Linked DNA regions of Homo sapiens: region 1 is linked to region 2. The links come from fine-mapping of genetic effects on gene expression. A gene starts in region 2. The other region holds a variant in brackets. All regions are shown on one strand. Distances are from middle to middle.

Region 1 (15,330 bases), 560 kb after region 2:
ATTACTGCTACTTACTTTTCTACACTCACTAGAAATAGTACCACGAACTTTCCAATTAATAACCTAATTGTTACCAAATATAGAAAACATATCTGAGTGATGTCTGTAAAAGGTATATCACATATTCAAGACCTGGGGACTACCAATGCAGGTATGAGTAATTGCTTGTATGATGTCACTGAATTAAATCTGGAAGCTCCTTTTCCACTAAATGTGGTTATGCACCCTTACAGCATACCCTTTGAGTAAGTTTCTCACTGTACCTTACTCAGGAGCTATGTGAACTTGTGGACAAATTTAATTGACTTCTGCTCAAACACCACTAGGTGGCCATCTTTCCTAGCCCCTGAGGGCCTACATTGGGACTGAAGAGAATTTACTTACCTCTTCCTCACTGGTTCAGATTTTGCTATATGGCCTGTCTCCCTCCTACCTTCTGAATAGCTTTTCCTGAAAGTTCCCATTGTATCTTTCATAACCAGAGGCCAAAGCAATCAATAACCAAAATTAGCACAAACCTTGAAATAGATGGAGATAAGTTAGTTTCCTTGGAGGAAATGTTCCTGTGGGGTTATTGGGGGCACACTCTTGGCAGTATTGGGGTGCTGGTTGTATAGAATTTGAAGATAGTCTGTAAATTAGGAAAAATCTTAGATTTTGTAGCCAATGTGACCGCCCAAAAGTTCAGATGCATAGAAGCTGCTCTTTGAAAGGTGTATGAAAACATTCATGTTCAACAAAAATACTTAATGGAGCATCACGCAGATCTTCTCTTTGCCTACATTGAGGACTTGTGTATAGTGCTAAACGAAACTGAATATTGTACTTACCTTTCTCCTGATTTTACTACTACAAAAAGCTTAATTTAAAATGTGGCTGATACTGATGTTTCTCTAGACACTGCCACCAAATACATCAAGGAAATTTCTCACGGGAAAGGAACACATGATGTGTTTACAGGAGCAGCTAATGGTTGATTTGCAGGTATCCAGAATGGTGGAATGGTGGATGGCAGACTTGGCTATTGGAAGGTTTTTTATTGTTTATTTTTAGCCTAATCATTTGGGGCTAATATTCCAAGGTTTTAAAATCTTTATGTGTCTTTTAGTAGGTCTTCAGACTAGTATGACTTGTGTTACCAGGCTAACTACAGAATCAGGCACCTCTTTAAAGGAGGGCATTTTACTACTAACTATGGCCCTTAATCACCGTCATGCCCTGAACAAAGACTATAACCAATAGGACTTGAATACTGTTGAATTGTCTTTATTATTGCTTGAACTTTAAATTGCTTAATTTAGATTATTTTGGTTTGTAGAGACTCCTGTTAAGTAGTGTACTTTAATTTTTTAATTTTTTGTATTTTTCCTCCTGATAACCATTATAATATTCTTCCTAATGTATTGTATCCCTTAAGAGTCTTTCTCTCTCTTTTCTTTTCTTTTCTTTTCTTTTGACAGGGTCTGGCTCTATCACCTAAGCTGGAGTGCAGTGGTATGAGTGGTATGATCTCCATTCACTGCAACCTCCACCTCCTGGACCCAAGCTATCCTTTCACCTCAGCCTCCAGAGTAGCTGGGACTATAGGTGTGCACCACCATGCCCAGCTAATTTTTGTATATTTTTGTAGAGAAGGGGTTTTGCCATGTTACCCAGGATGGTCTTGAACTCCTGGGCTCAAGCAATCCACCTACCTTGGCCTTCCAAAGTGTTGGAATTACAGGCATAAGCCTCCATGCCTGGTCCCTTAAGAGTCTCAAATGCTCATATGGAGCCATCCGTTGTACATCAACTAATCTCATTATAGTTAGAAAAACAAAAATATCAGGAAAACATAAAGAATAATCCAACAAATTCGACATTGTGAATTGTGAATTTTATACTGAGACCAAACAAGTCCATTATGATGGTGAAAAAAATTGGACCTAGGTTATGGTCAATTTCTCAAAATTCAAAGGCTGATAAAAGAGGGGAATTGTTAAATTAAACTTTGGCCTAATGCTGTCTCTAAATGAAGCAAACTATAACCTAATATATATAAATAAAGCATAATATATGTTATATGTATGTTTTATATATATACATTATATATGTATATAAACCTATATATATATATATATATATATATATATATATATATATATATATAAACCTACCTTGAGACTACATTCTTGTAACAAGCAACTGAGTCTCAGTTAACTGTAGCAGCTGAGCTTTTGGCCAATCACAGGCTGCAAACTGCTCAGACATGTCCAAATAAAGCAAGTGCTAAACTGTAACAAATCAGGCTATTTTGTTATGTCACTTCCTTTTTCTATCTATAAATATGGACTGCCCACATTGCCAGGTAGAGTCTTCTGAACCTTTACTGGTTCAGGGTAATGCCCAATTCATGAATCATTTGTTTGCTCAAATAAATTATGTTAAACTTAACTTGTCTAAAGTTTTTATTTTAATAGCACCATGCTCTTTGAAATGCCTGTTCCTTGGTGCTGTAAAGAAATAGCACTTGAACATAAATTCAATTTCCTCAGCAAGGCCATTTCTATACTTTCTGCAGAAAGGGTACACTCACCAGCAGTTTTGCCATGAGAGTACACAGAACAAAGGAGACAGGGTCATTTATAACTTGATGCGTCCACCTTACCACCTTACTGCTGTGTCCGGTTTCCATTGGCTAGAACAGGACCTCACATTCTGTATTTGTCCCGATTGGCTAGCAACTTAGAACACTTTAAAAGAGGCAAAAGCAGAGGAGAACAAAGGAAGGAGGAAGTAACTTGTAGAATGCTGAGAAAAGTAAAAACACCTTCAAATAAGGAAGAGAAACAGGCTATGACCTAATGCTTGCTTGGACTAGTATGAGCACGCCAAGGCAAATATTTAGGCTAAATTGTAAGAGCTAAGAACATAAAGTACATTGATTTCTTTATTATGGCTAGCAGATAGTTAAGAATGTTACTATAGGTCTTTCAATAAATTTTGCTTTTAAGGGAAGTTACTATTTATTCCTAATTAAATGGGGAGACAAGTCTTTCCAGAGGAACTTCTACTTTACTTTTTACAATTCCTCCTCTTATTTCATAATTCTTCTTCAAACTTGTTTAATATGTTTTGACTTAATTGCTTTGTTTGTCCTTTTAAGAGAAGTAATTTTTCTGAATAAGGTGGAGGAGAGTTAGGAGTTAACTCTGTAAGCATGGCAGAGACAGGTTTTTGTGTAAAACTTCGACGGTAGGGAATAATATAACAGCCTACAAGAATAAGTACACCAATAACAACAGCAAATGAGGTGAGAATTGAAGTTAAAATTTCTTTTTATCTACTGAACAAATGTTTTATTACTTTAGAAAAAGGGTTATTTATTTTATTATTTTTGGCAAGTTTATTGGATAGGGTTTTTAATTCTTGTAGCACTTTTGTTATAATTCTGTCAGGGGCAGTATTTTTAGGAACAAAGGTATAACATTAAATTTTAAGTATGACACAAACATCTTCTTTTTCTGCTAATATTATATTTAAAGTTATTTTATTTTTCTAGGCCATCTGGCTGATAGGTCCTAATTGCTTAGGTATCTCTTTGATGGTGTCCTCAGTGTAATTTATGAATCGTTGCTGATTGTAATAGATATAGTTTATTTAGCCTACTTTTTTTTATAGTTACTTACTAGAACAATGTGGATTTAAATTCTGCAGCTAATTGATTTTGTGCTTTAAACTTATTTGGCACTTCTCACAGGACTTTAATGGCATTTATGTAAACCTGAGGATTAAAGGACTCATAAGGAGTTTCCTTTGGCCTGAGGTGTTTTGTTTTTACCTTTTTAGATTGATGAATTGCTACGGTGAAAGGGATAGCGAATTGGATTAGAGCACAAGTACTGTTCTAATTATTTGGCAGAGTGTCTAATAAAGGTCTTCTACAGTACTACTATACATTTGCTTGGGGATGGCTAAGCATAGACTGATAATCAAGCTCTTGGAAAGACTTGAGCTCCTTGCATTTTTTTTATGCTTCCAAGGAACACCAAATTTTCCTCTTGCTATGAGAGGCATGAAGTAAACTTGGCCATCTGAGATGGAAGCTGGATTGCCCTTGGGGGCTGACCCGTAGGGTGTTGAATTTCAGGAAATAGCAGATAGAGAGCTCGGCATGATGTATTATCCTAAGCCATGGGATTCTGAAAGAGAGCCACCATACACTCCATATCTGGTTGACAAGGAGACCATCCAAGTGGAAAGGGGACAATCTGGGCCTCTGGCCTACCATGTGTACAAGCATAATAATCGCTTTTATTTAAAGTGCGAACGGAATATTTAATTCATTCCAGCCAGGCATTTGCATCTTGATATTTTTGTCTTGATGGCTAAGGTCTGTCTTAGATCTCTTATTTTTACAACAGACAGCTTAGTTTTATTATTAGATGTAGGAGCAACTGGTGTGGGATCTAGAACTGAGGCTACTGAAGAAGGGGAAGATGGGAGAATCATGCATACTTTAAAAATACTTAGGGGTCTTTTCCATTTATGTCAATCTTCATACCATAGAAGCAACTAAGGGCTGGCCTAGAGTTAGTCAAGGTGGAGGTGGTGATAAAGAGAAGGACAGGGTTACATAGATAAGGCTGCCAGTTAGAAGGGGTAGTCCTTTTAGTGAAATAGATGAGGGGTTTTAGATCTGCACAAACCTTTTTTGTGGAAGTCCAACTTTGCTTCTAAGTAGTTTAAAGGACATAGTCCTATTTTCTACAAGGTTGCCAGGCTGCAGGAGCAGAAAATCAGTGTCTTGGCTGCAGCTGATCACAATGATGAGTGCTAGGGGTAACTGTGTCCAGTAGAGAGCCGGGTCATAAATATTTGTGTGAAAAGGCTAGCTGTCATTGATCTTTTACATCTCCACAAGGTATGACAGAGCAAGCATTAAAGGTAATGGTCTGAGGTGAGTCAGACTTAGTTACATTAATAACAAAGAAGCTAGTAACAGAATAAGGAAAGGAAAGGAAGCAATATAGAAGGTATATGAAAATTAAGCTTTCTTTAACTTTAACTTAGTAGGGCTTGATCTTAGTACAGTAACATGATTCTGAAGAGGAAGATGTTTTCTTGACTCGAGTATGGTGGGTCCATTCTTTCTCAGCTGTGTGGACGGCAGTCTCAGTGGTTAACAGCATAAAATAGGATCCTTCCCAGGCTGGCTTGAGTTTTTTTCTATCTTTTGATGAGAATGTGGTTTTCAGGCTGGTGCTGGTGTACTGGAAATTCTAGGAATGGTACTTGTGCTAAAATACTTTCAGTTCTGAGGGAAGGGAAAGTGGAAGATAAATTAAGTGTGTAATTTCTGCTGCATATCCTGGGGCTTGAGGCCTCATGGTGACACCTCCTGCTCCATCTCTGCTCAGCACTGCCCAGGGGATGCTGTGGCCTTGCCCTCTCTTAAGGTCTTGGCCTTCTTGTGGCCTTCACCGCCCCTGTGCACTGTGGCCTTGGGGATGAGGAGCCTTGTGACTTACCCAGCCACTTTTGGGCCTTAAGAAAGCTAAACACCGTTTTATATTTGACAGTGTTTTTGTATGATTTTATACCAGATAAGTTAAATTTTTTATATTAATGTGCTATTAATGTTAAGCTTAATTTTAATAAAATCTTGTAGATATTTAATCTATTTTTGATGTCTGACTATAAGGTAAGACTTTTATAGACTCTTTTTAACTGTTTATAATTTTTGCTAAAGAGCAGGTTAGTGCTTTAAGAAAAATCTATTGTGCTTTTATTTTAATGTCCAGTTCACAGAAAAACTGGATGATACCTCTTTAACTTTAGCCATTATGTTTACACACAGAATTTCCTTTACAATTAACATTTTAAAACTTGCTTAAACTTTTAAAACAAAATATATATTTTTAACTTTTTAATGTATGTAAAAACCTATATTTTTATGCCTCCTTATAATCCTGTTATTAAAAATATATTTTATTTTTCTTACATACCTTGTAAATAAACTGTTTTTCAAATAATTTTACATTCAGGAGGCCTACTTACTTTTTAAATTATACAATATTTCTGGCATAAATTCCTTTTCATAACTTTTCTTACAACTTTCACAATCTTCAACATGCCTTAACTTTCTGCCTTCCTTTTACACTCTTTGTTTTCGTAGTTTCACCTTCTGTGTCTTTCTTTGATTTCTGTCTCTTCCAGTTTCTCTCTTACTTACTCTTTCCATCTATTTATCTCTCTCTCATTTGCACTCTGTTTCTCTCTCTCTCTCTGTCATCCCGTTTCCTTTTCCCCTCCTGAGTTCTCTCGCTCCCACCAACGGCAGGGTCAGGCCACGGCACGGGCCCCACCCCTGCGCATACATTGCCATCTGTTTCTCCTGTTTTTGTTTGTTTGTTTGTTTTCCGATTTCCCTTTTTACTTTTTTTTCCCCTTTCTTCCTACACTTAGTTTCTTGGGCTGGGTGGGATTTGCACAGCTGCAGTCCTGGCCCCAGGCAGTCCCCCACACTCTCCTTCTGGCATCAGTCCCTGCCCTCTTTTTCACATAGAGCCTGGCTGGGGAGAGGGGCTTAACTCTTGGTGTGCCTGGCTGTCTGGTGTCGCACTTGCTGTTTTTGCTGTCTTTCTCCTTTCCCTTCCCCTAGGGGAGCAACCGGCGGGAGTGGAGCTTAGCCTTTTCTTTCCCGGAGAAGAGGGAAAAGGAGAATTTTGAATATATACGTATATATAATTTTTTTTACTACCAGAGGTTTTTGTGAAGTTCAATCCCCTCACCAATGGCGATTTCTCACTTCTTTTTGAGATTCAACTTCTTATCTATGGGGATTTCTTACTTTTTTTTGAGGTTCAACCTCCTCTCAGTGGGAATTTCTTACTTCTTTTTGAGGTTCAACCCCCCATGGGGATTTTTCACTTCTTTCTGAGGTTCAACTTCTTTCTTAATGGAGATTTCTTACTTCTTTTTAACTTCTAAGACATCTTGACTAAGGAATACTTCACCACCACCCCCTCCCCACCCCCGAGGCTTTCTTTCCTTAGTCCTGACTAAGGAATGCTTTACCCCCCATTGTGGTTTCTCTTTTTTCGGAATGTCTTAATTAAGGAATGCTTTACTGCCTTGTGGCTTTTTCTTTGGTTTTGACTACTAAGGAAATACTTTACTGGTTTTTCTGTTTTTTTTTTTTTTTTTCTTGTCTGTGTACAGAGTTTCTTGGTTCATGTGATATGTGAGGATGCTTTACTCCAGGTTGCCAGCCAGTTTTTATTGTTGTTGTTGTCTTTCTTTTTTTCTTTTCTTTGTGTGTGTGTGTGTGTGTGTGTGTTACTGAGAGTCTGGGTTTATTCATCACACTGGGTGGGTCTCGAGTCCTTATCCTTGAGGCTACTGCAGAGAGGCAGAGGACCATGCTTCTTCATGAGACAGGACTGGAGACTGCCTCCATATGAGAATGTATCCCCGTACAGGCCACCAAATTATTTGAAATGTTTGTTCCTTGGTGCTGTAAAGAAATAGCACTTGAACATAAATTTAATTTCCTCAGCAAGGCCATTTTTATGCCTTCTGCAGAAAGGGTACACTTGCCAGCAGTTTTGCCATGACAGTACACCAAACAAAGGAGGCAGGGTCATTTATAACTTGATGTGTCCACCTTACTGCTGTGTTCAGTTTCCATTGGCTGGAATGGGACCTCACATTCTGTATTTGTCCCAATTGGCTAGCAACTTACAACTTTTTAAAAGAGGCAAAGGCAGAGGAGAACAAAGGAAGGGGGAAATAACTTGTGGAATGTTGAGAAAAGTAAAAACACCTTCAAATAAGGAAGAGAAACAGGCTATGACCTAATGCTTGCTTGGAATAGTGTAAGCATGCCAAGGCAAATATTTAGGCTAAATTGTAAGAGCTAAGAACATAGAGTACATTGATTTCTTTATTATGGCTAGCAGATATTTAAGAATGTTAGTATAGGTCTTTGAATAAATTTTGCTTTTAAGGGAAGTTACTATTTATTCCTAATTAGATAAGGAGGAAAGTCTTTGAAGAGGAACCTCTACTTTACTTTTTACAATGCTGAAGAGTGGCAATGTGACTATTAGGTACAAAATTGTCATCTTGCCATTAGTGTCAGTTACCATGATAAAATGACATTCAATTTAACCATCATAAAAGCATTGACAGTGGATGAATTAGGATTATAGAATATTGGATTTGATAGACTTTAGTCATTATCTGCCCTCTATTATATGCTGAGATGAGAAAACTCAGTCCCAGAAAGGTGAGGTAACTTTTCTAGAGACTACAAAAGTAACCTAATAGTAGAAGGCAAGAGGGTAAACATTATTGCAGAGTTAAAACAAAATGGTTTGGTAATGCGGAAGCAGAGGAGACTATTTTTGGCTGGAGGGACTCAGGAAAGCCTGAGGGAGAACAACATTTGACCTAGACATTGTAGGAAGGATGGAATTTTAACTATTAGAGGCTGGGGAGGCAATAGTGGAGTAGCATTGAGACAGCCAGCTGGGAGGAGGTCCCCAGAAAAAACTCCAACCAGCATGCACACAGGGATGGAGCCTCAAATATTTGCACCATTTGCAGTGGGGAGGAGCCTGGCCCCTCCTCTTCCTGTGTGGAACCTGGAATTCGAATGACCAGGTGGGAAGCACTCTAGCAGGGGACTCTGGCCTTGTAGAGAGTCCCTGTTTCCTTTTTTTCTTTCTTTTCACCCAATAAAACCCTGTCTTACTCACCATTCAAATTGTTTGAGAGCCTGAACTTTTGTGGCTGTGGGACAAAGAACCCCATCTTTAGCTGAACTAAGGAAGAGTCCTACAACATTTTTGGCACCCAACGTGGGGCTTGAGAAGTGGCAAGTGAACTGGGGACTCAAAACCTCTCAACGTTCATTCTAAGCCTTTTCATCCTCAAATTTCTGAGGGTAGGGGAAACCATTCCCCAATCATCTATTGCTCCCAGGCCTTTTCCTTCCTTTTTTGGGACTGACCAGCAAGCAGCACCTCCCCGCTGCTCTCCCCTCCCTTCTGGGGCTGGAACGCACGGTCCAAGTGTCCTGTACAGCCAGCTGGCTGTTGTTTTCCACCATGCACCACCAAAGCCTTCACCTTCCCCTGCTAAGGGGCTTTACTCCATTGGACAGTAATTAAGCTTTTCTCCTGGTGGAGGAACCAGTTGTATAAGAATAAGAGGGTCTTTCCCAGGCATTTTAAAACTTTTTTTCTTTCTCTGCCCCACTCCATCAGCAGTTAACCTTTAATTTTTTTTTTCTTTTAGAAGACGTTTTTTACTAGGTCAGGCCCCACACCTATCACCGTTTATGTTTTCTGCAAAGCTTTTATTGTGAAATCAAGCCTCCATTTTGTTTTACATCCTGAGGGCATGGCTGGTAACCACCGCTTGGCAAGGCTTTGCTTAGCAATCCTGCCTTAGGGGATGAGCCCTCTCTGGTTTGATGTCTGCATGTTTTCCTAGCCTTGTCTCTTAAAGGTACCCACCCAGTGACTGGGTTTTCTTGTGCTTGTCTGCTTGTGTACTGTGTGTGATGTCTGTAAAAACGGCTCTAATGAATCTGGTCCAAAGAAGGACAAACACTTGAATCTAATATTTTTTAAAGGAAAGATAAAATTTCTGGTACCTTTCAGTTCA[T/C]TTGACTTTAATCTTTAAGAAATAAAAACAGCCGTAAAGACTACGGTAAAATGCAGGTCAGATGCAAGGTTTGCTAAGTTTTTTGAGGTTACAAACTGTTTTTTGGGTTTTGAGACCTGTCTGTCTTGCCTGCTTCACAATTGGTAGGGCCTGGGAATATATGGAACTAAACACACCCTAGATTAAGAAGGCAAACCTTTGCAGCACTTACCACACAATTAAAGCAATTTAGCAGGTTTTACATTAAAGTTAAAAATTGCCAGGAGTTACCATTATATCACGTAATCTAAAAATAGATTTACACGCAAGATGCCTAAGAACGGTAAAATGTGTTTTTTAGTAAAAGGTTATAAGAAGGCATGGAAATGTAAACTTTTGCCTTGGATTAAAGGATTGTTTTGAGTTAGGTAGGAAAAGTTGAACGTTCAAACAAGTGATAGAAGCATTGTGGAAGTTAATCTTGCAGAAGAGGTTGTCTATGTGAACATATTGACTAAATTCAAAGGGTTATAAAAGTTTTTGCTTCTTTAAAATTTCTCAGTACCATTTTGGCAAAATAAATAATTTATGGTAACCTGGAATTCTATTTCATAATATCAAGTGCTTTAAACTTATTTAATAGGCTTCCCAAAATCAAACTTCAGTTTCCAAATGGTCTTTCCTGACACCTAACTCTTTGGATAGTCCAGAGGGCCCCTAGAATGTCCAGAAAAGAGAAGTAAACAGGATTATTTGACATGTTTAGGTACATGGTATTGCCAAAATGATGTTCAGTCTTCTTTAGGTTATATCTTGGTAAATAATGCTAATATATGTTCCAATATTGTATGGGATTTCTAAAATTCTAATGTCTAAGTGTATGCTATCAATCATAATAAGGTTGTGATGTTATTGTAAACCATGGAGATAACCAAACTTCTTTGTCGATTTTGTTTCTAACTGTAACTACCCTGGACATTTTGTAATTCACAGACAATTGTTGTCTTGTTTTAATCCTTTTCAAAAGATTGTTTATAACAAGCTATAGAACTTTAACAGGTGCTCTCAAAAACAGATTTCTGATAACTTTAGAGATTGTAACATTGGAATAAAAGAAAATGTACAGGACTCATAAAGAGCTGAAATATTCACAAATATCAAGCAAAACAAGAGTTAACTAAATGGACTGAACTGAAAAAGCTGAAGCAACCTTTTTGACTTTTGCTTGGAATATTGATGACCCTTGTTTTGTTTTTCAGTCAAGGAAACTCATTTTGAGCTATTTATGGCCTTTAATAATTAAGCAAGGTGTACTCCTATTATCAAAATTTGGAGCATGTTTGTTTCTCTCTCTCTGCCCAGTTCCTCCAGAATTTAGAACCTATCTGTGAGTATTCTTAACTTATGGCAATATAGTTGTTTGCATCCATGCAATAAGAATCCATTTTTCTTTTGCAACAGAACACAATTGGAGAAAGTGGTTATTTTACCAAGGCTTTGACTGGAAGGGTATGCTTCCTCTTAAGGAGTTAATCTCAACTGACAGAGCCAATAAAAGCCCAGTGAGGAAACTGGCCTCATACCCTTGTCTACATAGTCCCTGTACAGGGTTCCTGACCTGTGGTCAGTAAAGAATATCACTTTCTAACAGGTCTAGGAGCTCCAAGTTTATCTTGGGAACTTAAGAGGAGAGGATCACCCAACTCACAGGTGTTTAAGGATACAAACCCATGGATGGGCTCAGTTTTAAAAGGTCTTATCTGAGACTCCTTGTGGAACAGACTTCCATCAAAGCCAATCTAAAAGGCCTATGTAAAAATAATTATTCTTGCTGGACTTTATGCAAATAATCAGGCCAAGTATAAGACTAAAGTCTATTTAAACAACTAATTCCTATGATTATTTGTTTCTTAACAAAAATGAGGACTGGAGAGACAGAAATTACGTTCCAAAACTTATCATATATTTGTCACTAAATTCTAAACTCAATAGTTGTTTTTGAGTTTTTGCCTATATTTTAGACTAACCCTGCTTGCTCCTGTGAACCAACCAGCAATCCCTGGCTGCAGCTCAGAAAGAACAAAAGGGATGGGTAACATAGAAATCTGGATCAATAGTCTAGTTCCGAGCAATTATCCTGCAAATCCTGCCAGGTGATGGGAATAAATAGGATGCCCCAGACTTGGAGGTTTTCTTTTGGGGACAGTGAGACCAAGGGAGCTAACCAAAGCTGAGCATCATGCACCGAAATCCCGGCAAGCGTAACTACAGCTACCAGTTATCTGGGTGTGTCACAAGACATCCTTTCCTCTCCCTTGTTGGAGGACTTAATTCCACAGCCTCACTTTAGCATTTGGCTTATGATAAGGAGTCCATGCAACCCCCCAAGATACATTCTTGTCCCAGACTCAGTTCCAAGTGTTGGGTCAAAGCCCTAGGAAGAAAACTGGATCTGAGGAATCCAGAGGCAGATAGCAACAGAGGTTAAAAGGCACAGCACAGGTGAGTGTGGCTCATTCCTGCTGATTAAGCCAAGCCCAAGCTTCCTGTTTCATGGATAAAGGCTATATTAATATCCATAGCATAAATGCGATCTAGGGAACTCCAAGACTACTGACAGCAGGGGAAACGGCATACGTGGGTAAAAGTGGATGACTCCCCTGCCGACCCCCCCTGCTTCATGGGTGCAAGCCACTTTAAAACCCATGGCAGCACCTGCCAAGGTCACTGGAACTTGGGGATGCAAGGATGGAAGATGAAAAGAGGACACTCTTCCCTCTTTCCCTCATGTATCCCATGTATCTGCTAGGAAAAGAAGGGAACCAGAGATGTCTGCTCTCCTCTTTCTAGATGGGTAGCGATTCATCTTCAGTCTGTACCTCTTTCGAATGCATCCTGAACCCCTGGGACTCCTTTAAAAAATGCCTTCTTTTTTCCTTTTTCCCCCTCAGTTCTCTCTTCACAAATAGGTAGTTGCATCTTCATACTATGAGACACTCACATCAGATGCATCCTCCAAACTGGAAAGAGTTAATTTCCCAAACCTTAAACTGGTTGGCTTAGGATTGGGCTCAGGGGAAGGAAACCCAGAAGCCCAACATTCCGGCAAAAAGGTGAAGTTTTTTACTTTAAACAATTTTTTTTTAACCAGTCAGGCTTTTGGCCTCCCTCTCCCTGTGCAAACTGGAAAAAGACCTTAGAATTTTTGAGCTGTCTTTGTCCCTCCCTTTGTTTTGCTTTGATATATGTTTTCTAATAACCCGGTTTGTTTGTCCTTGCCTTCAGGCCATCGAACTCCAAATGGTCATGCAACCAGAGCCTCTGACAATGGCCCCTTTTGCCAGGAACCCTTAAATAGGCCTCTGAGGAAGCTCTGACTGCCGTTTCCCCAAAACAGTGCCACCTGTCAGCAGGAAGCTGTTAAGATTTGTCTTTGTCCTTATCCTTATTTTAAGGGCAGTTAGATGTACTTCTTTAGAGGGGGGAATGAGACAGCCAAGTGGGAGAAGGTCCCTGGAAAAACTCCAACCCACCTGCGCACTGGGGTGGAGCCTCAAAAATTTGCACCATTTGTAGTGGGGAGGAGCCTGGCCCCTCCTCTTCCCGTGTGGAAACTGGAGTTTGAACTCCAGGGCAGGAAGCACTCTAGCAAGGGACTCCGGCCTTGCGGAGAATCCCTGTTTCCTTTTAATTCTTCCTTTTTACTCAATAAAGCCCTGTCTTACTCACCATTCAAATTGTCTGTGAGCCTGAACTTTCATGGCTGTGGGACAAAGAACCCCGACTTTAGTTGAACTATGGAAAAATCCTGCAACAGCACAAAGCAAGACCAAGTGCCGCCATCTCTGTAGAATAGTAAGTCACATGGTTTGGCCGGAAAGCAAGCATGGTGGGCATAGCAGTGGGAGGTAAGGCTGGGAAGATAGGTTACAATCAATTAGAGAGTTTTGAATGACAAAGGAGGTGATAAACCTGTGGCAGCCATGAGAATGTGCCTCATGGATCTCTAATATAGTTAGTACAGGCAGTATAATTGACCAAGCTCTTCAGCTGCTGTACTTGAGATACATTTCGGTGCTTGTGCTAAGTCTCGCTTTCCTATGAGCTGTTTTCAGCCAGTGGGTAAGTATGTTAGAGAGACTTGGGACACCTTTGGTGGCTTGAAGACTTCTCAATGGTCCTGATGAATCTTCCTTAGACTGCACAGCAGTCTAAGATGTTTCTACCCAACCTTTCTCCCCTCTCTTTTTCACTCAGTGTCAGACTTGTGTTGCAATCTGATGACTCTTCCAGCTTTTCACTCCTTTATTTTAGTCTTCTTTCAGTTACTATAGCAGAATATATAAAGCAAAATAAATTTATTTTCTTTTACAAAGAAAAGAAATGTATTTCTTATAGTTCTGAAGGCTGGGAAGTTTAAGATTAAGGAACTGTCATTTAATTGGCCTCTGGTGAATGTCTTGATCTGCACTATGACATGGCAGAGAAGTGAAAGAGGAAGTGGGCATGTGGAAGAGGAAAGAGATGGCTGTCTGAATTCCTTCGTGATGCTGGAACCTCCCTGACCCAAACACCTCTCACTAGGTTCTACCTCCCAACACTGCTGCATGGAGGAATTAAGTTTCCAACTCATGGACTTTTGGGGGACACACTCAAACCTTAGCATACTCTCTCCTTATTTTCCTTTATACGGGTATTTTCCTTAATAAAATCCTTGCATATTTAGTCTCATTTTGACATGTGACCTGGATTAAGTAGAATCTAGTCTTAGAAGCCTTGTACTTAGCTTCATTAATCCATTTAGTCACAGGGCATAATGGGCAAGAAAGTGAGTCCTGTTAACACATTCTGCCTCCTTGGAAACAGCCAAAGTTGCAGGTCAGGAGCAGCAGCTTCCCGGATGAAAGACTGATGGTACAAAAGAGGCTTCCCTTTTAATCCTCATTATAATGTGGATGCTGGATTCTTTCTGGGTTAAGCATTTTCAATCTTTATTATTTGAAATTATTGTTTCAAATTTTATTACATACCATGGCCCTAGTATTTTGTTTAAAATATCTTTATTTTTCTGTAAAGAACAAGTGTGCCATATTTAGCTTTTGATAGAAAAAATTAAGAAACTATCATAAAGGGAATAGCTAAAAGAAAGGTTAGTAAAGGGAGCCATCACAAGGAGAGATTTTGGAAAAGGGTGGTGTCTTAGTCCATTTTGTGTTTCTGTAACAGAATATCTGAGACTGGGTTATTTATAATAAACAGAAATTTATTTGGCTTAGTTGTAGAGGCTAGGAAATTCAAGACCAAGGGGCCAGCATCTGATGAGGGCCTTCTTGCTGTGTCCACCCACGGCAAAGGTGAAGGCAGAAGGGAAAAAGAGTGTGTGAGGAAAAGAGGGAGCCAAACTTGCTTTTATAACCAACACACTCCTGAGATAATGGGATTAATCTTTTCATGAGGGCAGAGACTTCACCTAATCACCTCATTAGGCCCCATCTCCCAATACTATTGCAAGTTTCAAACACATAACTTTGGGGGACATATTGAAACTATTGAAGGTGATAACCATTGACATTCTTTACAGGAGAAGAACAAAAATTGTAAACTGCAGTTGGAGGACCAAGGCTGAACAGAAGGAATTTGTCCTTGAAGAATGGGAAATTTCATGGGCTACTCTCTGAAAGCAATTTTTATTTT
Region 2 (15,330 bases):
TGCAAACTGGTTGACATCATGTTGATAGCTTGAAACTGGCCGTAGTGAAATCATCTGGATGTTTGTCCCCTACAAATCTCACGTTGAAATGTGATCCCCAATGTCGGAGCCACCATGCTGGTCACGGGGGCAGATCCCTCATGAATGGCTGGGTGCCTTCCCCATGGTATTGAGTGAGTTCTCACTCTAGAGCTGTTGTTGAAAAAAGCCTGGCATCTCTTTTGCTCCCTCTCTTGCTATGTGATGTACCTGGTCTCCCTTCACCTTCTGTGATAATTGTAAGCTTCCTGAAGCCTCACCAAATGCAGAAGTTGGTACCATGCTTCTTGTACAGTCTGCAGAACCATAAGCCAAAATAAAAGTCTTTTCTTTACAAATTATCCAGTCTCAGGTATTCCTTTATAAGCAACGTAAAACAAACAAATACAGTGGTGGTATTTATACTAGAGAACTGATAAACACTATAAATTAGGATGTGCCCCCCCTACCCCGCCCCACAAAGACATAGTCATTAAACATTTAACATATACAATGGATACAAGGAAGCTGGAAAAGGAAATGGCAAATGCACACTCAAAAACCTGGGAAAACTCAACTGAGGAGCCCTGGTACCTCCCGTCTAAGAAATGTAAGGCCACTAACAGGAGAAAAGATTACTCATAAAGTCTTTTAAAGAAAGGTAAAGTTACTAATCACCTGCTATGTGCCAATTACTATACCGTAACTTTTATTTTTTTAGCTCTTCTAACAACCTTATCATTCCAATTCTTGGCACATGAACACACTAAGCCACTGAAGTGTTAAGTAAATAGGGAATCAGCAGATGGTAGAGATAGGAGTTGATCCTCGGACTGCCTGTCTCCATCACCTATCATCTTTCTGCTATGCCACACAGGTAGCACTACCAACCTTTGCTGAAGAAGGAAATCACAAGTATTCAAAAAAGGAAATAAATCCTAAAAAGCCACTCCACTTTCCCTCTCACCACTCCCTTCCCTGCTCCAGGGTATCATACTAAACGGATGGCTGTGTCTTCATAGGGATCAGCTGCATTCCCCAGCAGTAAAAAGTGCTGATGAGTGGAGTCGGGGTGCTTTTCAGATATATTAAATCACTTTTTAATATGCTCTCCTTCTTGCTCACCAATACTCCCATGAGGGAGAACGTTCTTTCCATGAGAACAAAGTGCTACCAAGAAATCAAGGAACATGACAATGGTGAAAAAACCTGAAACCCAAACTGAAAGGGGCAAAATGTTCTTTTAAGCAATTTTACTGAGATTTTAGTGAGATGAAACTGGACCAACCTGCAGCCACAGTGACCAAACAATAGGGCAGAAACCCAACAATCTTGGGTGCTCTTGGCCAGGGAAAACCCCTAAAGAAAAATACCATTTCGCTGGGTAACTTGATTCTAGGCTCAGAGCCAGTCTATGACCTCAAGCATCTGAATTCTCTGTCTCCACCCTCCTCCCAGATGGCCTTGCTATGAGGGCAGGCCAGTCAGGCAAAGGGAACAACTGGGAATCAGGAGAGCCATTTCAGCTTCCATCCTTGAATCTCTGCGCCTCAGACAGGGAAGATGCACTGGAGACGGAGAGGTGAGGGGCATTCACTTTTCGCGGTCTATATTTGACTTTTGAAGTGATTTCAATGAACAAGTATCACTTTTAAAATACAAACTAACACAGGTAAAACAAACTATTGATTCCCCATCGGGGGAGTTTCTGAGTGACAGCTGGGAGACCACTTAAAGGGATCCTAGAAGAGATGGTTTAGATCTACACTGTCCAATACTAGCCACTAGCCCCCTATGGCTGTTGAAATATAAATGTAAATTAATTAGAATTAAAGAAAATTAAAATTCAGTTCCTCAGTTACACTAGCCACATTCCAAACGCTCAGCACTACATATGGCTAGTCGCGACCACATTAGAAACTCAGGAACTAAACATCTCCTTCATCACAGGCAGTTTTACTGAACAGTGGTATACTAGAAGGCCTCTAAGTCACCCGCCAATCCAAAACCCTCTGAAACAGGTGAGTCACACTATGGAGGGCAGGGCTCACCTGCAACTTCCATAGTTCTGGCTCACCTCACAGAGGCCTATTGAAACAATACACAGATGTATATGGAGCACCTGCAAAACAGATGCCTTTAAACCGAAGACATTAATGTGATTATCACTGTATTTGGTTTCACTACTCACGTCCCCTATCACTTCAGAGCCAGGCTCTGCTCAAGAACAGAATGTACTCTGCTTATAGCTATTCACACCCTAAGAGTCCAGATGGTTAAGAACCTACAGACACCCAGGTCCATCCTACATCTCGGCCAAGCTCCCAAGAAATCTAGTCCATGCCACGGCCACTTGGGTCCCACCACTGTGCCTATGACACCTCACCTTTGTGAGACACATCCTTCAGCAACCTGGCTTCGGACTGCACCACATTCCTGTTGCTGAGGAAGATCAGTCGACGGAAGTATCGCTTGTCATCCCCTTGCACATCCTCAATGACATAGTCACCGCTCAAGGGGCTGCAGTCTTGGTGCTGAACGGTCCGGACCCCAATGTCCCCACCCACAGACAGAAAGGGGACCTGAAGGTACAACCAGAGATGTGGTCAAAACAGCAGCTCATTTAAGAAATAAGAGAAATTATAACCCCTTCCCTTTTGTGTGTATATATCCCCATACCACGGTTCTAGACAACAACTACTCCACAGATTTGCCATTCTATTAAAGTACTTTTCTGGAGCCTTTGAACTGATCTCAAAGGTTTAATTCATCTTTTGAAAATCAACTGGACACATAAAGATCTCCCAAACAACTAGTGAGATGCAGCTGATTCTCCCCAAGTTCTTTTAGGGGTTTTTCTCATCAGTAACCCCTAAAAGAACTCTCAATAGTCCAGGATAACAAAAGCTAGAGGGAACCCTCAGGAAGGGGCTGTGATTATGAGAAGGAATCTACACAAGAATAAAGATAACAAAATCCATGGGAGAAACAACCACTCCAAATCTAGAGAGATATTCCTTTCCCCTGATTATTCTCATCTATTTTTCCCCCACTTTTCTGAACCTTAGGAGAAAAATATACTTTCCCCCTAAACTTTCCCACTCCTTCCCCCTATCTTTATTTCTTTTTTTAAAGACCTATAAGACTAGTTAATAATCACCAATATCTCCTGACCCTGCAGACTCAGGCACTGGTGAGAGGCCACAAATGAAGCTCCTCAGAGGATCTGGGCTTCCTTGAAATAGGGGTCATCAACCCCAAAGTTGGCCAGGAAGAATCAAACTTACATTCATCTGTAAACACGAGTCAGCCTAGTGGGCAAAACCACAGGCCAGGAACCCAGGAGCCTGGGTTCTTTTTTTTCAGATCTGTTACTATTTGCACCAAGCCTCTAGATACCTTTGCTTTCCCACCTATCAAGAAGGATCAAAGCTTGGGCAACATAGGGAGACCCTGTCTCTACAAAAAATGTAAAAAAAAAACTAGCCAGGTATGGTGGCTTGCACCTATAGTCCCAGCTACTACCAAAGGCTGAGGTGGGAGGATGGTTTGAACCCAGGAGGTTGAGGCTGAGGCTGCAGTGAGCCGTGATCACACCACTGAACTCCAGTCCAGCCTGGGCAACAGAGCAAGACCCTATCTCAAAAAAGAAAAAAAAGGATCAACTCCTCATCATGAAGTTCTTTTAGTAAAATCACTTGTTCGTTACCCATGGTGACCAGGATAGCACAAGACAGTTGGTGTTAACTGATAATACCATATCACCACTTAGGCAAAAACCTTCGGTTTCCTTCCCAGTAAAACACCTGACCAGCAATGTGAATACCTGGATAACTGTGCTGAGCTGTTTTGGCCCTCTTCCATTTATACCCTCAGATAATGATAGTTCTAAGAAGCAAAATGACCAAGAAAGTCCAGTGTGGAAGGAGAAATCCACAGTCAGAGCAACTCAAATTAGGAAGAACTGAAGCCCGCAATGAGTAGAGCATTTCCATCCTGCCATGTCTATGGACTCTGAGAGGCTCCCCCAGACACAGACGCTACTGTGCTCACTTTCCTCTCATTGCCTGGGGCAAAGGACAGTTTCCCTGCCATTTAACCCTTAGCTGCTGATACCCCTCCAGGATTAGATGAAGAGTCACAGACTCTAGTCCTAGCTCCTGCCAAGGCTCCCTCTGCCTCCCTGGCTGCTAACATGACTTCAGAGACCCATGAAAGCCGTACGAAAGCTTTGTTACCTGCTGCTGGGTGGGCATCCCAGCTGGGGCCAGCTCCATGACTCTAGCCGACAGCTCAGCTTGGATGTGGTCCATGCTTTCATACTGCTGACCTCGGTGAAGGGCCACTGTAATCAACCTCCTGAAGCCAGCACTGGCCGCCAGCTGTTTCCGGCCCTCATCCATGCCAAAGAGCCACTCGGTCTCCCGGCCCTGAGGGACTAGAAAAAAGAACTTGGTTACAGGGAGTCCTGGAAAGTGATCAAGCCCACAACCAATATGGCCCAAACGGCAGGGAGCCAGTCCCTGTCCAAGACCAGCATCTTCCCCAACTGTGACCCACTGAGGAGCTAACAATTCTCTAGTTCACAACATCTAGGGCAAAGCAGCCCATCAGACATAAGGCAGGACCAAGGGTGGAGAAGAAGTGTGGGCATGTCCGTAGGGGAAGGAGGCAGACACCTACCACAAGAAAAACAGCAGTAATGCCAACACAAATAAGCCATGCCAGGCATGACTCCAAGCTGTTGACAAATATATATTAATGGAATCCTCCAACAGTCCAAGATGCAGGTAGTAGTATTATTCCCATTTTTACATATGAGGAAACTGAGAAACAGAAGTTACACTATTTGCCCAACTTCGCACAATAAGTAAATGGTGAAGCTGGGACTCAAACCCAGGCAGTCTAGCCCCAGACTCTACCCACGCTTGTATTCACTGCACTATTTATTTCCACACATGGACAGACAGAATTATAGAATACTTGAAAAACTAGCTCAGTCACCAGGAAACAAATTACCGTAACACCAAGACCATAAACACTTTGCATTTGTCTACAATGTTCCACTTTTGAAAGCACTTCCTCCTACTATCTTTTTTATCCTTATTAAGATAAATCTGATATAACTTACTGCTTTCAGTAATAATGGCTAACATTTACACAGCACTTCCAAGGCCAGGTACCATTTCTAAGAGCTTTTATACTTCTCACAACTACACCAGAGTTACAATCCCATCAAGGCAGAGAAAGAAAAGTAACCTGTCTAATGTCACACCATCAGGAAATGACTGAGCCAAAACTGAAACCCAAACAGTCTGGTTCCAGAGCTCACTTTTTTAGCTGCTACCCTATGCTGCCTCTCCAAATTTTGCAGAGAAGCACAGCAACTTCCCCAGGTCCTGCAGCTCACAGGCTACAGCTGGGACTAGAACCTATGTCTTAGACTTGCTAGTCCAGCATTACTTCCATTACTCCATGCTACAAAGTAACTAGCATCTCTATATCATATGTGACCTCCTAAATTTATCTCTATTCTCTCTCTTCCCTACCAACCCCATTCTCACACTTCATCAAGCCTTTGCAATGGCAGATGAAAAGGAATAGGTCTCAACTCCAAGTAGGTTGCTAGAGAGCTATTACTCTCCTTTCATCATGCCTTGGGTAGTCTAATCCTCTGGAAGTACAAACCCCTGCAAGACAAAAAACAGTCCAGAATCCCACCAAAGCCCCAGCCCAGCCTCAGCCCCAGCCCCAGCCCAAGCCCCAGCCCCTGTAAGCCAGCCCCTCCAGGGAAGAGAGGGAGCAATCCCAACTCACTGATGAAAATCGCAAAATGATTGTCCCGCGATGGTTTCACAGTGGGGCTGTCCACCACGTGGAGGGTGTAGCGTGGCTCCCCCGTGTCCCCATCGCACAAGTCCAGAGACACACTCCCCAGCCTGGCCTTGCGGCGCAGCTGGCTGCACAGCCAGGCATACTGCTGTCGCTCCTGCACCGCCTCGGCCAGCCGCTCGGCACTCTCCAGCCGCACAGGCTTGCGCTGCTCCTGAGCACACAGCTCAAAGATCTGAAGGGCAGAGCCAGGGACTGGCCTGAACTTGGTCATGATGAAGGCAAAGACAGGCAAGGAGAACTGAGGCTCTGCTTCCAACACCTGGTCCTGGCTGTTGGCCACTTGGTGCACCCTCACCATCCACCCCTCCCGGGAGAAGTGGCCCACTGCTTTCTTCAGGATGTGAGCCTGAGCCAGGGAGATGCAGAGATAGCGACCGCCCACCTGCAGGACACGGCCAACCTCAGCCAGCATCCTGTCCACCTGTTGTAAGGTCTTCTCTTCCTCATCTGTCAGGACAGCATCCAGGGTGCCCTTGTCCAACACCACCTGGAACGAGGCATCAGGAAACTCCATCTGCGTCATGTCCATCTTCAAGAAGCTCATCTGGGGCCGTCGGGTGGCATTACATTCCTTCATTTGCTTGATGACAACCTCACTGATGTCGATGTTCACTATATCCCGATAGCCCACATCATACAGTTGCTCACTCAGTTCTGAGTTGCCACACCCAATCACCAGCACCTGGAGAAAAAATTCACAGACAAGAGGGAGGTAATCAAAGCAAAGGACTGTACTTCAGGTACTTCAAGGAATCAAGTCTCACCTTGGCTGAGTCACATTTTCAGAAGGTGGAGACGCTACTGCCAGAGAAAGAGCGACATTGTAGAGTTGATGCTAGACTCTATCTTGAAACACCACATATACTTGCTAGTGAAAACCACATTCAGCTACAATACAGGTTATATGAGAATGGGCTTTGTGTTGCAGAAACAAATTAATCATAACTGTTCTTTTCTCTAAATCATGCACTTATTACTCAGGAATTAATAGGAAGTCAGAGAATCCAAATATAGAGTTACAGTTGAAATCCTAGGCCAGGAATAACCCTATTTCCTCACTCTACTCATGCCTTTGGCTCCTTTAGACAATAAAGTACACTTTGTGAGGATTCAAATCTTACTTCCATCACGGATTCCATCTCATGATATTTGGCTATCTTCTGAAGCCGAACTTAAAATTCAGATTGTTGTCTCCCTCTCCAGGGAGCAATCTCCCATTCAAACTTAGAAATTCTGATATTGCCATCTTTGGAAAAGCATGGTACAAAGAGATGTGCATATGCTCTGGAGCCAGACAGGCCTGAGTTTAAATCCCCACATGACCACCTGGACATGATCTTGGGCAAAAAAAAAAAAAAAAGTGGCTCTCGGGGCCTCAGTTTCCTCATCTGTAAAATGTATGCATGGCCACTCACCTGAATTTATGATGAGAATTCAAAGATTGCACATGCACATACACAGCACCCAACATAAGGCTTGGCACATAAAGCTTCCCCACAAATGTTAAGTTTTCTACCTTCCTCCTTCCCTACCTCCAGTACAATCTCACCTATACCAAACCCATTGTTGTACTTATCACGTTTCACTTCTGGAACATGTGCAGGGTTTACGTCTTAATGCTCTTATAGTTTAAGGACTGAGCAGTGCCTGAAACTTGGGGCGCACTCAACGACTATTTGAAAAACAAATTCATACACAAAGTCACACCTGCTGCAGGTTGCACAGGAATGCACAGTGACAGAAGAACATACTTTCAAGATGGGAAGTCACTCTTCAAGTAGGGTTATTAATCCAAGAATGAGCTGGGGTGGGAGGTCTATTATCTGAAAACCTTTAAAGAAATGTTTTTTTTTTTAGACAGGGTCTCACTCTGTCACCCAGGCTGGAGTGCAGTGGCGTGATCATGGCTCACTGCAGCCTCGACCTCCTGGGCTCAAGCGATCCTCCCGCCTAAGCCTCCCGAGTAGCTGGAAATACAGATGCGCGCCACCACGCCCGGCTAATTTTTTCATTTTTTGTAGAGACGAGGTCTCATGTTCCCCAGGCTGGTCTTTAACTCCAGGGCTCAAGCGATCCTCCCACCTCGGTCTCCCAAAGTGTTCGGATTACAGGTGTGAGCCACTGCGCCCGGCCTGAAAGAATATTCTAGTTTGTCTTTTAGCAGGAACAATGCAGGAAATGCTGAAATATGCGTCCAACTAGGGTCCTCCCGCCTGTCACTGTCCACCAAGTGCAAGATTCCTGTTACCAGTTCCCACCTTCCGGAGCACGTACGAAGGGCTACCAACCCGCGCTCCTCACCTTTTCCCTGGGCTTGATATATTTATGTAGCACCCCGCACAGTTCCAGGTAGGTTCCATACCACTCGAAAGCTTTCTTTCCTCGCTGCTGGAAGAACTTCTCCCAATAGTCAACGGAGCCAAACTCCCTGGAACTTTTAGGTAAGAGGTTCATGTTCCTACTGCCGAAGCTGCGTTTTCAAGACTCCCCTATTCCCTGTGAGATACCATTTGAGGAGCTTGCCCACCACACGCAGGCTCCGGGACACTGCAGTGGGAATTCTTTCCACGGAAAAACAGCCACATTGATTTGTTCCCCCACTCCAAACCCCAGGAATGACCCTTACACGACAAACGCACGCATGGACCACTGAATCTCACACACGCTTGCCCCCTCCTCCGCGCCTGCTGTTCCTTCCCCACGTGAAGAGCCCCTCACACTTTTCCCGAACTAGATTTCCGAGCCCATAACCATATCCGGGTGCGAAGCCTCGTGATTCGTCGGCCGGCCCAGCCCAACTCAGCTAGTCATTGGTCGCTGCTTTGCGTTTCTATCACCTCATTGGCTGCGACGTGCTTGCCTTTCTCCGGAGGCTCCGTCGCAGACACCTAAACGCTTTTTTGACCTGAGGCCGGCCGACCATTCACGGAACGGGGCGGGACCGCGGGCCGGAGTTGTGGCGGAAGAGGCCGGGCCTCTGTGAGAACTAGGTCACGTCCGGGTGAGGAGTGAGCGCGGCTGTGCTGTGGTTGGGCCCTCCCTCCAGGCGGGGCGGAGAGCGCGCTTGCTTCCTGGGCTCGGCCTCCGCTTTGTCTTGGAGCCGGCTTAATCACTGACTCCGATCGTGCGCCGCACAAGGGCGGAGCGCGGCAGGCGGGAGCGTACTGGTAGAGGAGGACGAAAAGAAAAACCTATACAGATAGGAGAGAAGTGAGGCAGGAAATGAGTAAAGCCAGTCCGTCGTAAAAACGCTGCACATTCTAACCTTGTCAGCTTCTGCGCACCAGCACCCCCCGCCTTATTTTGCCACCTCTGCACCAAAATATAGGATTCTGCTATCAAAAGTGTAATAACATGAAAACTCCCTCTTCCTTCTCTCCGCAAAGCACAGCATGCAAAACTAGCCTTTCATTTTGATAATTGGCCTCCTTGTGTTATTCTGACGTTATTTATAACTGCTTATTTTATGTGTTTGATAAACATACTGTACTTTCACATGCTCATGCTAATACCCTGAGGAAGCTTCTGTGAAGGGCACTTTTTTTTCAGACAGGGTCTGTCTCTGTCGCCCAGACTGGAGTGCAGTGGTGCAGTCATGGCTCACTGCAGTCTCCACTTTCCAGGGGTCAGGGGATCCTCCCACCTCAGCCTCCCAAGTAGCACGCCACTACCGCTGGCTAATTTTTTTTTTTTTTTTGTAGAAATGGGGTTTCGCCATGTTGTCCGGGCTGTTCTCAAACTCCTGAGCTCAAATGATCATCTCGCCTCACCCTACCAAAGTGCTGGGATGACTGGTGTGAGCCACTATGCTGGCAGGCACTATTTGAAAATGACCAAATATGTGTATCACTGGGCCTTTCATACCATGATAAATTGCAGGAGGAATATACTGATTGCGGAGAGCAGATAGGCTTGGAATTGAGCATGTGTGCTGTGGGCTGTTACATACTACACTACCACAGGTAGATAGCCAGGTAGACTGTTAATAGTTAAGTAGGTTAGATTGGACTTAAACATTGGTTTAAAAAAGTGATTCTCAAACTGGCATGCGTCAGAATCACCTGGAGGACTTGTTAAAACACAGAATTCCCCAGTCCAACCCCTGTTCTAAGTCATTAGTTCAGTGGTGAGGCCCAAGGATTTGTGTTTCTAACAAGTTCCCACGATGCTGATGATGTTGGTCCCGGAACCACACTTTTTTGAGAACCACTGTTTTAAAATACAATTAAGTCAAAATGGATATGGTTCAAAATTCGCAATTTTCAATGATAAATCTAAAAGCTTTCTACAAGTAACATAAGAGAAAATCTGTTTTCATGATCCCTTTGCTGAGTTCACATTGTTCCTCTCTACCCAAGATAAAGAGAAGGAGTCCTTGAAGTAGTAACTTCAGCTACTACACCATGCAAGGTTCTGAATGGGTGAAATGTGAGTTCTTTAGGAAGCACTTATTGAGAGCGGAGGACATCACTTGTACTGAATGTGCTACACGATACCAAAGAAGCAAAACAGCATAGCAGCCAGGCGCGGTGGCTCACGCCTGTAATCCTACCACTTTGGTAGGCCGAGGCGGGCGGATCACTTGAGATCAGGAGTTTGAGATCAGCCTGGCCAACATGGTGAAACCATGTCTCTAATAAAAATACAAAAATTAGCCGAGCGTGGTTGTGTGTGCCTGTGGTCCCAGCTACTCAGGAGGCTGAGGCAGGAGAATCGCTTGAACCCGGGAGGCGGAGGTTGCAGTGAGCCAAGAGATTGCGCCACCGCACTCCATCCTGGCCAACAGAAGGAGACTCCCTCTCAAAAACGACAACAACAAAAACAAACAAAAACCATAGCAGCTGCTCTGTGCCCCCCAAAGCTTTATTCAATTCAGTTCAACAAATATTTTAATTGTCTAATAGGGGCCAATCACTGTGGTAGAAGCTAAGGATGCAGTGGTAAGCATGGTAATCACGTGGAGGGCACATTAAACAATTACAAAAATAGTCTGTAATGGGAGTTATAAGTGCTGTGAAGGAGAACCATACCATTCCATGATAGTATATCTTTGTGACCTCTACTGATCTAAGGGGTAACCAGAGAAGGCTTCCCTGAGGAAGGGACAAAAATACTATATAATCTGACTGCTTAATATCAGCATGACATAGGTGAAAAACCAAAAAGCATGGTTCACCTTCTGGAACCTTTACAAGAATTTCTGGCTGCTGCTTTTCCCTCTGTCTCCATTGTCTGTTCTGTTAAGGTCATGTTATTAGAAAAGACGAAGTTATTTCTATCACAGCCCAGGCTCCAGCCCCGTATTTGATGCTCTAAAAGTATGATTACTGTTTGCAGTGTTTTTCAGACCAAAAGGGTAAGTAACTTACGTTTTTCCATCTGTGCCTGCCTCCCTTCTGTGAGCCTAAAAAAGTGATAACAACCAGAACATTTTAAGCTTAAACATACTAGAGATTTTCTAAAATTGTAAGATTAACACAGAAATATTTTAGATATATTGTAACATTAGACCCTAGCATTAACCTTTCAAAATACTTATTTGAAGCTTATTTCTCTCAAGATTTAACTATGAAATATAATTGATAGGTATGTGTTATCATTAGTATACTTAGTTAATTTAAACCAATAAGATGTTAAAATGCTTTGTGTTTTATTAGGATCCCCAGAGTGGTTAAAAATATGATTTAAAATGCAAGCTAAATTTAGATAAAGCCATTCAGTATTGTGGAGTTTTTTCCTAAAAATATAAATCCAGACCTCTGGATATATAATTTACAGTCAAACTTACTTAATTGAAACATTCTCATAATTGTGGTAATATTCAATTGATTGTTACTACGATTAATTGTAAAATAATAAAGAGGGAATAAAAAGCATCTCTGACAATTTGGGAGGCAGAGGATGAGAGAGGCAAAATAATGCTCCCCTAAAGATGTCTACCTCCTAATCCCCTGAACCGAAACTGTGAAGGTAACAGGTTACAAGGCAAAGAAGAATTAAGGTTGTAGATGCAATTAAGGATGCTAATCAGCTGACATAGCAAGATTATCTAACTGAGCTCAATGTAATCACAGGGTCCTTTTTCATTTTCTTTCTTTTTTTTTTTTTTTTTTTTTGAGACGGAGTCTTACTCTGTTGCCCAGTCTGGAGTGCAGTGGCACGATCTTGGCTCACTGCAACCTCCGCCTCCCAGGTTCAAGCAATTCTCCTGCCTCAGCCTCTTGAGTAGCTACGGATTACAGGCGTGCACACACCCAGCTGATTTTTGTATTTTTAGTAGTCTCACCATGTTGGCCAGGCTGGGCCACAAGGGTCTTTTAAAGTAGAAGAGGGAGAGACAGAAGGGCTTGGCCCAATGTTTCTGGCTTTGAAGATGAAGGAAAGCAGCCATGAACCAAGGAAAGGCGGTGACCTCTAGAACCTGGAAAAGGAAAAGAAATGAATTCTCCTGTAGAGCCTCCAGAAGAAATACGGCCCTATTGACACCTTGATTTTAATTTATTGAGACTTGTCAGACTTCTGACTGATCCAACTGTAAGATAATAAATTTGTATTGCATATAGTACTAGTTTTTGGTAATTTGTTACAGTAGTGATAGGAAACTAATACGGAACATAAACAGAAGAGAGAAAGAGAGAGAGAGAGTATGTGTGGTTGGGGCAGAAGGTCACAGTGGGGAGAAAGCAGCAGAAGATACAACTAGAGGCTGAGGTAAAGGGCAGGTTTTGAGGAGTCTTCTATTCCACATATTTAGCTTCAGCCTGTCAGGCCACAGGAAGTCAACAGAGAAGCAGAGTCATGACAGAAAGACCTGATCTGAGAGATGTTCTCAGGAAAGACTGAGGCACTTGATGACTGATTGAATAGGGGGAATAAAAGACTGAGGGACTCATAAATGACTCCTACATCGGCCTCTGGATGACTGAAGAAATAGTCTGTAGAAAGAAACGGGGAAGGAGAAAGGGGTATTATTTGTAGAACTGTTGCTAGAAAAGAATTTAGAGGTTATCACTCCAGTAAAAACCAGAGCCAGAGCTAAAAGCCAGTCTCCCCACCCTGCATGCCTACCCCAGGGCTCATACCCTTCTCACTTCCTGTCAGTGGTATCCAGTTGGAGTTGGTAGGTCCAACACATGAAAATGTTTCACGAGTGGGATATAAAATTAAGTAAAGGGAATGTCTCTTTGGTGTACAGGGAGTGGCTCATATAATGCTGGAAACTATTTCAAATTGGAAATCATCTTAGCAAATGGGTTTGTTTTCCACATTTGAGAAGTTTAAAAATGAATGTTCTCCTGTATCTTGGGATAATAGAAGGCAGACACAATAACATCCTAGGGTAACATTCTGCCATTTTATTAGCTGAGTGTCAACACTTTTCTTGACGATATTGTTGACCTGAAAAGTGACTATCAAGCTGATATTGGATTCCTAAGATTGGGATGATGATAATAGCTACTTATTTATTTATTTATTTGTTTGTTTGTTTGTTTATATAAGACAGGGTCTCACTGTGTCACCCAGGCTGGAGTGCAGTGGTGCAGTCACAGCTTACTGCAGCCTCGACTTCATGGGCTCAAGTGATCCTTCCACCTCAGTCTCCCAAGTAGCTGGGACTACAGGTACGAGCCTCCATGCCTGGCTAATTTAAAAAAATATATATTTTTGTAGAGACAGGCTCTCCCTATGTTGCCCAGGCTGGTCTCAAACTGCTGACTTCAAGGGATCCTCCCACCTCAGTCTCTCAAAGCGGTAGGATTACAGGTGTAAGCCACCATGCCCAGTGCATCATAGTATTTTTTAGTTTGTATAGCACTTGTGATTGGCCAAGAATTTTTCTCATACACTGAATCCATGGGAAGGAGAGGCTCAGAGCTACAGAGTTAATTTTCACATTGGCAGAGAATCCCTTTGGGTGAATGTGCCAGCCTTGTACAAGATTAACAAATTCGTTTCAACATAGATGATTACACACTGCTTTCTTAAATATATATACCTATACATATATAATTAAGGCAAAATTCCAATTGATTACAAGTAAGTGAAAAAAAAAAGTTATATATGACTGAGCGAATTGAGCCGTGACTGCCTCTGGTATTGTATTTGATTCCCAGGATTTTCTTTGTGCAGTAGTTTCCTACTCTGTCACTAAGGGCGTCTGTTGATGGATTGGTTTCCTCATATGCATGGACTGCAAGGCATTAATATAGGGCATATTATACATTGCAAGTTGTTTGCCTTTGGGGCCAGTAGGCAATAACATTTTGAAAGCTGCAAGACTGGGGAGATGAAGGAATGATGCCAAGGTTAACAGGCTGTGCATGAATACATTTGACCCCTATATGAGGGGGCTCACAAAGCCTCCTTTTGACTGTCTTTGTTTTCTACAGCCTGGATACTGGGAAAAACCACAAGGGTAAGCTATTAGACTGTTTTCTTCATAATTTTATTCCAAACTTCAGTTTCTTTGCAGGAAAAGAAAAACTTGAAAAACATTTTGTTTTTCTCCTACACTCTAGCACTCTAACCCATGACCATCTCATGTATCCCATTTTTATAGATGCTCTCTGTCCTCAGCCCATAACAATATTTTTCTACCACTAAGGGAATGGATTTTAAAACAGCATTTAATAAATAAAATTCACTTGAGTACTCCACCCAGAGGATTTTTTAACGTTCAGATCCAGAGTCCTCAAAGAAACCAGAAAAACAAAACTCCCTTTAGTCCAACAAAAAAGTTATAGTATGTAATACTTCTCTAAAACTAAAACTGTTTTCTTGCCATGGGGCTGCACGAATGACCTTTTCCTAAGAAGAATCACAAATTATGGTGCCAAAACATTTTACTGTTCTTAATTCATCTCATCTTTGAATAGTATATCTTCATCCTCACTGCTGACATACAGTAGAAAAAAAATTTCCACGTGTCAAAATTTCATCCAAGCAGCAGCTCTGATGTTTTTCATTTTTTTAATTTTTAAAAAATTTTAAACAGTTCATCATGTAAGCTCTGGTGTTTGAAGACTCAAAAGAGAAATGTCCTCAGAGAATATGGTATATTTCTGAAGACAGCTGACAGAAGAGGGAACCCTTAGCTAGAAACTATATAGCACAGAAGTTAAGGTTGGGATTTGGAATCAGAATGATCTAGACATGAGCTACCATGCTGGGCTGATTTTTTTTTAATAAGATTTTTTGAACTGAGATATGCTTCACATAAAATTCACCATCTAAAAGTGTACACTGGGCAGGCATGGTGGCTCACACCTGTAATCCCAGATCTTTGGGAGGCTGAAGCAGGAGGATTACTTGAAGCCAGGAGTTCAAAACCAGCCTGGGTAACATAGGGAGACCCTGTCTCTACAAAACAATTTAAAAATTAGCAGGGCATGATGGTGTATGCATATGATCCCAGCT

What was found. PIP is the estimated chance that this variant, and not a neighbour inherited with it, causes the effect. A credible set is the group of variants that fine-mapping cannot tell apart.
Region 1: its variant is the best candidate, but not a certain one, in a credible set for the expression of METTL13 in unexposed skin (GTEx, PIP 0.84).

Annotation. Positions count from the first base shown.
Region 1 is chr1:171,211,959-171,227,288 of GRCh38, reverse strand. All of the region lies in intron 2 of FMO1-AS1 (FMO1 antisense RNA 1), which reads left to right. LOC124900413 (a long non-coding RNA gene) reads left to right here and starts at 2,928. Exons shown (of 2, transcript XR_007066731.1): 1 at 2,928-3,292. FMO2 (flavin containing dimethylaniline monoxygenase 2) reads right to left here. Exons shown (of 9, transcript NM_001460.5): 9 at 14,603-15,330. RefSeq lists an enhancer at 7,095-7,656. The variant T/C (reference allele first, on the strand shown) is at 9,658.
Region 2 is chr1:171,775,005-171,790,334 of GRCh38, reverse strand. METTL13 (methyltransferase 13, eEF1A N-terminus and K55) reads right to left here and starts at 8,675. Exons shown (of 8, transcript NM_015935.5): 1 at 8,215-8,675; 2 at 5,836-6,595; 3 at 4,257-4,456; 4 at 2,405-2,600. The coding sequence starts at 8,367. RefSeq lists enhancers at 8,329-8,862, 8,692-8,986.